Linked DNA regions of Homo sapiens. The protein of the gene in region 2 interacts with the protein of the main gene of each other region in a pairwise test. Each region holds a gene or a part of one and is shown on either strand. Other genes may lie near its edges.

What was found. Proteins that work in one complex are often made in the same cells at the same time.
Region 1: the proteins of CMTM6 (region 2) and SPG21 interact in binary tests that used the Homo sapiens proteins (3 or more experiments, as listed by UniProt).

Annotation. Positions count from the first base shown.
Region 1 is NC_000015.10:64,969,293-64,973,046, forward strand, and holds part of SPG21 (maspardin), read right to left. Parts: intron 931-3,754; coding exon 822-930; intron 71-821; coding exon 1-70. UniProt on the Homo sapiens protein: May play a role as a negative regulatory factor in CD4-dependent T-cell activation.
Region 2 is NC_000003.12:32,482,201-32,485,954, forward strand, and holds part of CMTM6 (CKLF-like MARVEL transmembrane domain-containing protein 6), read right to left. Parts: intron 1,898-3,754; coding exon 1,760-1,897; 3' UTR 1-1,759. UniProt on the Homo sapiens protein: Master regulator of recycling and plasma membrane expression of PD-L1/CD274, an immune inhibitory ligand critical for immune tolerance to self and antitumor immunity.

The DNA.
Region 1 (3,754 bases), on a different chromosome or scaffold from region 2:
GTTCCACATAAGAATTTTGACAATTCAAGGTAAGTCTTGAAGCCAGTTCACTCTGACCCAAACTTTCTAGCTGCAGGAAGAAACACAGGTAAAGTTTTTGAAATAATTTTGTTTTTCACATTTACATTAAATCCACAGACAACATTTGTGCTTATAAAGGTGGTATCATCTGTGGTGGGGCCAGAAAAGTCATCAGTGAGGAACCACAACTTAGGTGAGAGACCATGAACTGGGCTTCTCAGGAGGTTGTGGCATTTTTCTATTCTGGAAACCTGGGTACAAACCAATGAAACCCGGCCTTCTACAGCCCTCAGCCTACACTGCCTACTCCAGCCAGGTGCCCATGGGCAGCAAGCCAATTCCTACTGCTCAAAGGTGACAGATATATGTTTTTGTTTTTTTTTTTTTTTTAAGATAAACCTTTAAGGGATCTTAAAAGAGATTTGAGAAATCATCTAGCCCAGCAGTTCCTAAATGCAAGCCAACAGACCTGGTTCATCAGATTTACCTGGTGGGTAGAGGAAAAGTGTGAAGTAAAAATAGATTCCCAGATCCCATGCCCAGGGATTCCAGATGGATGATCTGCTGTGAGGCCTTACAATCTGTATTTTTGAAAGCTCCCCTAAGTGATTTTGATGAATAGCTGGTGGGAAGCACTGATGTAGGCAAGCCCTTACCAGCAATAATATCTGCTCAGATGTATTACTCTGCTTAGCAAATACCTCTTACACATACTTGTGAGACAGATCTATCTTCTGGAACCAAGTAGATGTGAAAATTCCCAATACAATGTGTCCCCAACCCAATGTCATGATCCTTACCCTGTCTACCATGAAATCAATGGCATCAGCCATCATAGGGTCCACCGGGCCAGATGAAAAATTTCCAAGAACTATTTTTTTGAGCATAAATGCAGGCATCAGCCAAAAGCTGTAAAACACAAAGACCTTATAATTTAAACTTCCAAGACTACACATGGCAAATATTCATTCAACATTAAAGCTTTGTATTAGCTTGGGATCTAGAAATAAAAAGTCCTAATCCCCTCCTCCAAAGAGCTCAGCATCTAGTTTTTACACACACTTTCCCAAGCTTCCAAAGAGTTATGGCTTCATATAATTAAACTTTTATTTGAGGATTTAGGATAATTATAAGAGATATTTCAAAATACCTTTACTGAGATAGACATTCTGATGAGTCCAAGATTGTTTTTTTTCTCTAATTGGCCCTATTTCCAAGGATTAAACTATTTCTTTTGGAAAACTGAATATTAAGAGAAGTATTCTTTCCTTCTGGTTGATATTATGTTTTTATCGATTGATATTTCAAAACAGATTTCAAAATACCAATATGAAAGCTATTGCACCTCCCCAAATTTGCTACTATTAGATTCAACTTGGCTAATTCAAGGCAAATTGATATTTATAGATTTATTTTTTAAATTTATTATTGTTATTATTTTTTGAGACAGAGTCTCAGTCAGTTACCCATGCTGGAAGTACAGTGGCATGATCTCGGCTGGGTGCAACCTCTGCCTCCCGGGCTCAAGCAATTCTCATGCCTCAGCCTTTCGAGTAGCTGCGACTACAGGCACATGCCACCACGCCCGGCTAACTTCTGTATTTTTAGTAAAGATGAGCTTTTGCAATGTTGGCCAGACTGGTGGTGAACTCCTGGCCTCAAGTGATCCACCCACCTCAGCCTCCCACAGTGCTGGGATCACAGGCGTGAGCCACTCCTGGCCTCTTTTTATTTTTTAATTAAAAAATTTAAAAAAAAACTTTTAGAGACAGGGTCTCACTCTGTTGCCCAGGCTGAAGTGCAGTATTGTGATCATAGCTCACTGTAGCCTCAAACTCCTATCAAGTGATCCTTCTACCTTGGCCTCCCGAGTAGCTGGGACTACGGGCTCGTACCACCAGGCCTGACTAATTTTTTAAAAATTTACTGAGCTGGGGGAGCCGGGGCCAGGCACGGTGGCTCATGCCTGTAATCCCAGCACTTTGGGAGGCCAAGGTGGGCAGATCACGAGGTCAGGAGATTGAGACCATCCTGGCTAACACGGTGAAACCCCGTCTCCACTAAAAATACTAAAAATTAGCCGGGCTTGGTGGCGGGCGCCTGTAGTCCCAGCTACTCGGGAGGCTGAGGCAGGAGAATGGCGTGAACCCAGGAGATGGAGCTTGCAGTGAGCCAAGATCGTGCCATGGCACTCCAGCCTGGGCGACAGAGCCAGACTCCGTCTCCAAAAAAAAAAATTTACTGAGCCAGGCGCAATGGCTCATGCCTGTAATCCAGAACTTTGGGAGGCCAAGGTGGGTGATCACAAGGTCAGGAGTTCAAGACCAGCCTGGCCAAGATGGTGAAACCCCGTCTCTACTAAAAATACAAAAATTAGCCAGGGGCGGTGGCCAGCGCCTGTAATCCCAGCTACTTGGGAGGCTGAGGCAGGAGAATCACTTGAACCTGGGGGGCAGAGGCTGCAGTGAGAACGTGCCACTGCACTCCAGCCTGGGCAACAGAGCGAGACTCCCATCTCAAAAAAGAAAATTTTTTTTCTGTAGAGACAGGATCTTGCTCTGTTGCCCAGGCTGGTCTAGAACTCCTGGACTCAAGCAATGCTCTTACCTCTGCCTCCCAAAGTGCTGGGATTACAGGTGTGAGCCACTGTGACTGGTCAGATCTTTACGGATTTCTATATATGATCTTTAGTTTATATTTATTCCATTAATTTCAACTGTTAAGAGCCATCATGGAGGGCAAACACTAATTTCTGTAAACCTATGACGAAAATTACTTAGATGAGGTGCAAACTACCTTCTGATGCTTATTACCACTGGGACAGCCTTGCTGGAAGTTGAGCTTCCCTCAAAAGGACCACTAGGTCACCTTCCAGTTAACTTTCTAAGTTCTCTCCCAGCCCCATCACTTTCTTATCTTTTGAAGGTGATGAGGTCTAAGTACGCTCTGTAAGGGGTGGACCCTGTTGACTTTGCTCACTCCTGGATCCTCAGTGTGTGGCACACAGTAAGCACTCAGATATTTGACAATAAGCAGCTGATGTGCCAGAGCACAAACTGAATGGGGGCTGTCTTGGCATTCTAACAATTAGAACAGCAATAAAAATCACCAAAAATAATGAGCATTATTTAGTGCATTATCTGGACGGGAAGGATTTGTAAAGTAGCTAATGTATACAAGAAATTGTTGCATGAATGCTGAGTAATTACTAAGATAACATCAGAAAAACTAAAAAATAGCTGGGCACAGTGGCTCATGCCTGTAATCCCAGCACTTTGGGAGGCTGAGGCGGGCGGATCACGAGGTCAGGAGATCGAGACCATACTGGTGAACACGGTGAAACCCCGTCTCTACTAAAAACATAAAAAATTAGCCAGGCATGGTGGCGGGCGCCTGTAGTCCCAGCTATTCGGGAGGCTGAGGCAGGAGAATGGCGTGAACCTGGGAGGCAGAGCTTGCAGTGAGCTGAGATCGTGCCACTGCACTCCAGCCTGGGCGACAGAGCGAGACTCCATCTCAAAAACAAACAAACAAAAAAACAAACAACAACAAAAAAAACTAAAAAATATCAGAGTGCAATTTTAAGTAGATGTGAAAACGATATTTCCCTATACATTATTTGAAAACACTGATCATACAGATGTGTTTACTCACTGGGCTTTTTTTTTGAAGTAGGGTCTTGCTCTGTCACCCAGCCTGGAGTACAGAGGCACAGTTGTGGCTCACTGCAGCC
Region 2 (3,754 bases):
GTGACACCACCACTAACACTAGTATCCAAACTCTGATACAAATCCTAAAGGTATTGAGTCAGTAAGACAGAGCAGAAGCTATGTTGGGCCATACTGACCAATTTCTGAGAACCACATTAGCCACATTCATGCAATTAAAACCCATCTAAGACACACAAATGGCAGATGAGAAAAAAAAAAAAGGATGAGGTCATTAAACTTTATCACTGGAAACATGATTCCACTGTTTCAAATAGGAAACCTACCCTGGGAGACTTCCACCAAAGTGCAGAAGGACCTGATGCACGGGCTCATCATCTTAACACTAGAGTCCCAAGTCAAAACTCTAGGAGGAGGATAAGAAAGGTCTAGTCTGTGAATCACCTGGACAGAAAGGTCATATCCCAAGTGCCCTGCCTATCTGTGACAGCTGCTAGCCAACAGACAATTCTGGTTATGAAGTTATCTCTTGAGAATGGCTTGATTCTCTTATGCCACCAACAGTATTAGTCTGGGCAGGGTTCCCTGGATATTTACTTTTTTTTTTTTTTTTTTTTGCCAAAGACAAACTAGAGCAATGCCTATGTAAGAACAAGGACTCTCAAGATCCTGCTACACAGTATTCACAATCAAAAGGGCCCAAGATTCAGGACCACCTAAAGACAACTGACAAAAAGTGTCAGAGCCAGAGGCCAACCTCTGCTAGATGAAGCAGCAGCACATGACTCCATTTCTATCTGATAAGGAGACAGAGAAGAGGCATCTCGAACAGATGAAAAACCAAAGGCTGGTGTCCTAAAAAAAACAGATTGGCTTCAAAGAAAACACTAAGGAAGACCCACAGAGCTGTATTAATTTTAGTAAAAATAATCATATGCCAACAGGGGAATTGAACCACTTTCTAAATCATAGTATGAACTCATCTCTTCAGATACTTGGTAAGTGGTCAAAGCTTGTTTTTATAATTACTTTCACTGTCTTGGGCAAAAAGTCTTTCTTATCTTTGGTCCTTAGGTGTGGTATCAGTTTCTTCCATTTTTTTATGTGTTACAAAACAATCTTTTTTTTACTTGACATCAACAACCAAGGTGCAGTATAAACACGAAGTTGCTGATATTGTTGCTTTTATACACATAAAATACCAACATCTCCCATACATTTTATAGGCTATACGAAGGTCTCAAAGAATTAATAACCGTTATCCAAAAATATTATAACATTTAAGGCTGAGTGAAATACAGTAAAGCCTGGTAATATATGTTAAGGAAAAAAACCTAGACCAACATTTTAAATATTGGTTTCTTAAATATGTTAAATTCCCATTAACAGAACATAATCTAAGCATCAAAACAAACAGCTAAGCAAATTAATTTAAAAATAAAACAATTTCTAAGTAGATGAATATAATCACGATGTTTATACAGCTATAAAGCATAATTTGGAAGCTAAGCCTAGTAAAAGAATGACCTGTAACAGAATGACAGAATCATTTATCAACCGTTGAGCTGTGTGATTTAAAAACAATTGTTTTCTCCTCCTCCCACCAAAATCTCCATTTGAGATAAGTTTCAATTATTATTTAAAAAAAAATTTTTTTTAACTTATCTGGCCTACTTTGTGGTGACTGACACAATATTGATAAAACTGCCTTCTTGACCTTCCCCTTGCTCTCCAAAAGAAGTGGTTTAAACAATTAACAAATTTTACAAGAGCTTCTGCCAGGGCTCAGGCACCACAATGCAGGGTCACTACCTTAGGTAACATCTGCTCCCCAGAGTCTTTAGGCATTAAGTGGCTCAGTGAGGGCTTCAGCCCTAGTGGTATTTTCAGGTTTTCTCAGCTGGGACTCCTGTCGTTTTTCATACAGCATAGTGATAAAGTCAAGTAGGAACATAAAACTTGCTATAAATCCAAACACCTGAGGAAAAAAAGGAGGAAAGGTTATATGAGAATTTTGGAATATAATCTTACATTTCCTACTTGGCTTGGAGAATGTTTCATATAAACAAGATGTTCATGAATTTTATCTTATACACGACTACTCTTTAATGGTAAAAAAAATTTTTTTAAGTCATCAAAAAATGGAAAGAAGTTATAAAAGAAAAACTTCCAGAATAATGGCTATTAGTCAAAGTCTCACAAAATATTAATGTTCTGCCTTATGTGTGCATGTTTATATGTGGAGGGCTAATATATGAAAGTAGGGTTAACAGATAAACATTAAATCCTATAAAATGATACAAAACAAAAATATTTGCATGGTTAGATTGACCCACAGATGCGATAAGGAAAATACGTGACTAGGCAACTCAGCCTAGGTGAAAATGAAAAAAGTTATTAATATCAAAACAGAAATTCCATTTTGAAGATACTATTAGGTTAAATTACTTAAATAATGTTCCAGTTGTCACACTGCAATGACACAGTGACATGACGCCACTACCTACTTCCTCTTCCTTAAATCACTTCCTCAACTGTTCTCTTCTAAAATACGATCATACGTTCTGAGAATTCTATCAAGAGACAGAAGACCATGCGTCTGCTTCAAATTTAGCTTCTCCACTAGCAAAACCCTTAAGGATATGGGGGCCAGATAAGTTCTCTGTAAAAAAGAGAAAATTGATGTAGGTGATGGCTAAAGTCTCTTCCAAATCTAAACTCCCTATCTCCACGATTTTTATTAATAACATTCTCTTACAGTCTGTTGCAGTCTCCTGACCTCTCCTCCCCCCTCTAAAGAATAAGCATTCCACCTCATTTTACCACAAAGTAAACTGAGCTCCAAATTCATTAAGTCCCCCAGATATCCCCAACATATCCAATCTAAATTTAATTATCAACGCCTCCCACCCTCCCATCCCCCGCCACAAAAGCCAAGTCTTTTTCCCTCTGGAATCTTTATTTTTGACTTGATGGCATTTATCCCCTTATTTTCCTGGCAACTTTCTTAAATACATCAAACTCAGACCAAATGTCACCCTTGTTTTTGAAGCTGTCTCTGATCACCACAAGTCATCTTCTAGCTCTTTTGTTCACACACTTCTGAATTAAAAAAAAAAAAAGAACTTCCTCATGCATTTAAGTCTATAAAACTTTTCATAATTTAAATAGTTACAAAAGGTAATTTCCAGCATATTATAAATATCAGCTTTTTAAACTACCTGTCACTATTAAATATATCCAATGAAATATAAATACTGGGACAGTCTAATTAAAATATAAAAATTTTTTTTATAGCTGTAAATTTTTTCCCTGGAACTCAATTTTTCCTCAACTTCATTTCACTTTCCCCACAGAATTTTATAGTAATGTATTTTTATACAAATAAGTAGCCAGAGCTTTTTAAAATTAAAAATGAGTTAAAAAACTCATTATTTTATTGATCACCATCTCATACTCCTCTGCAACAAAAATGTTTCTAAACTGAAATTAACCATAAAGCCCTATTAAAACTTTGATTTTTCTCTTCTATTGGTTCATGTACCCATGAATAAATATTGCTTATTGCTAGAATGAATCAAGATTCAGTGTTAATTTTATTTCTATGTTTTGTTTTTACACATGTAAGTGCTAAGAAACTGTTGTCATATGAATAGATAAATATAGCCATGCAATTCTCTGAACTCCTTTTGAGTTTTCTATCATAAAATGCAGTTTTAATGATGTATTAGCTGACAACTCTATTAATTACAACTTCAATTTTGTTTTTGGTTTTTGAGATGGAGTCTCACTCTGTCACTTACACTGGAGTGCAGTGGCACAATCTTGGCTCACT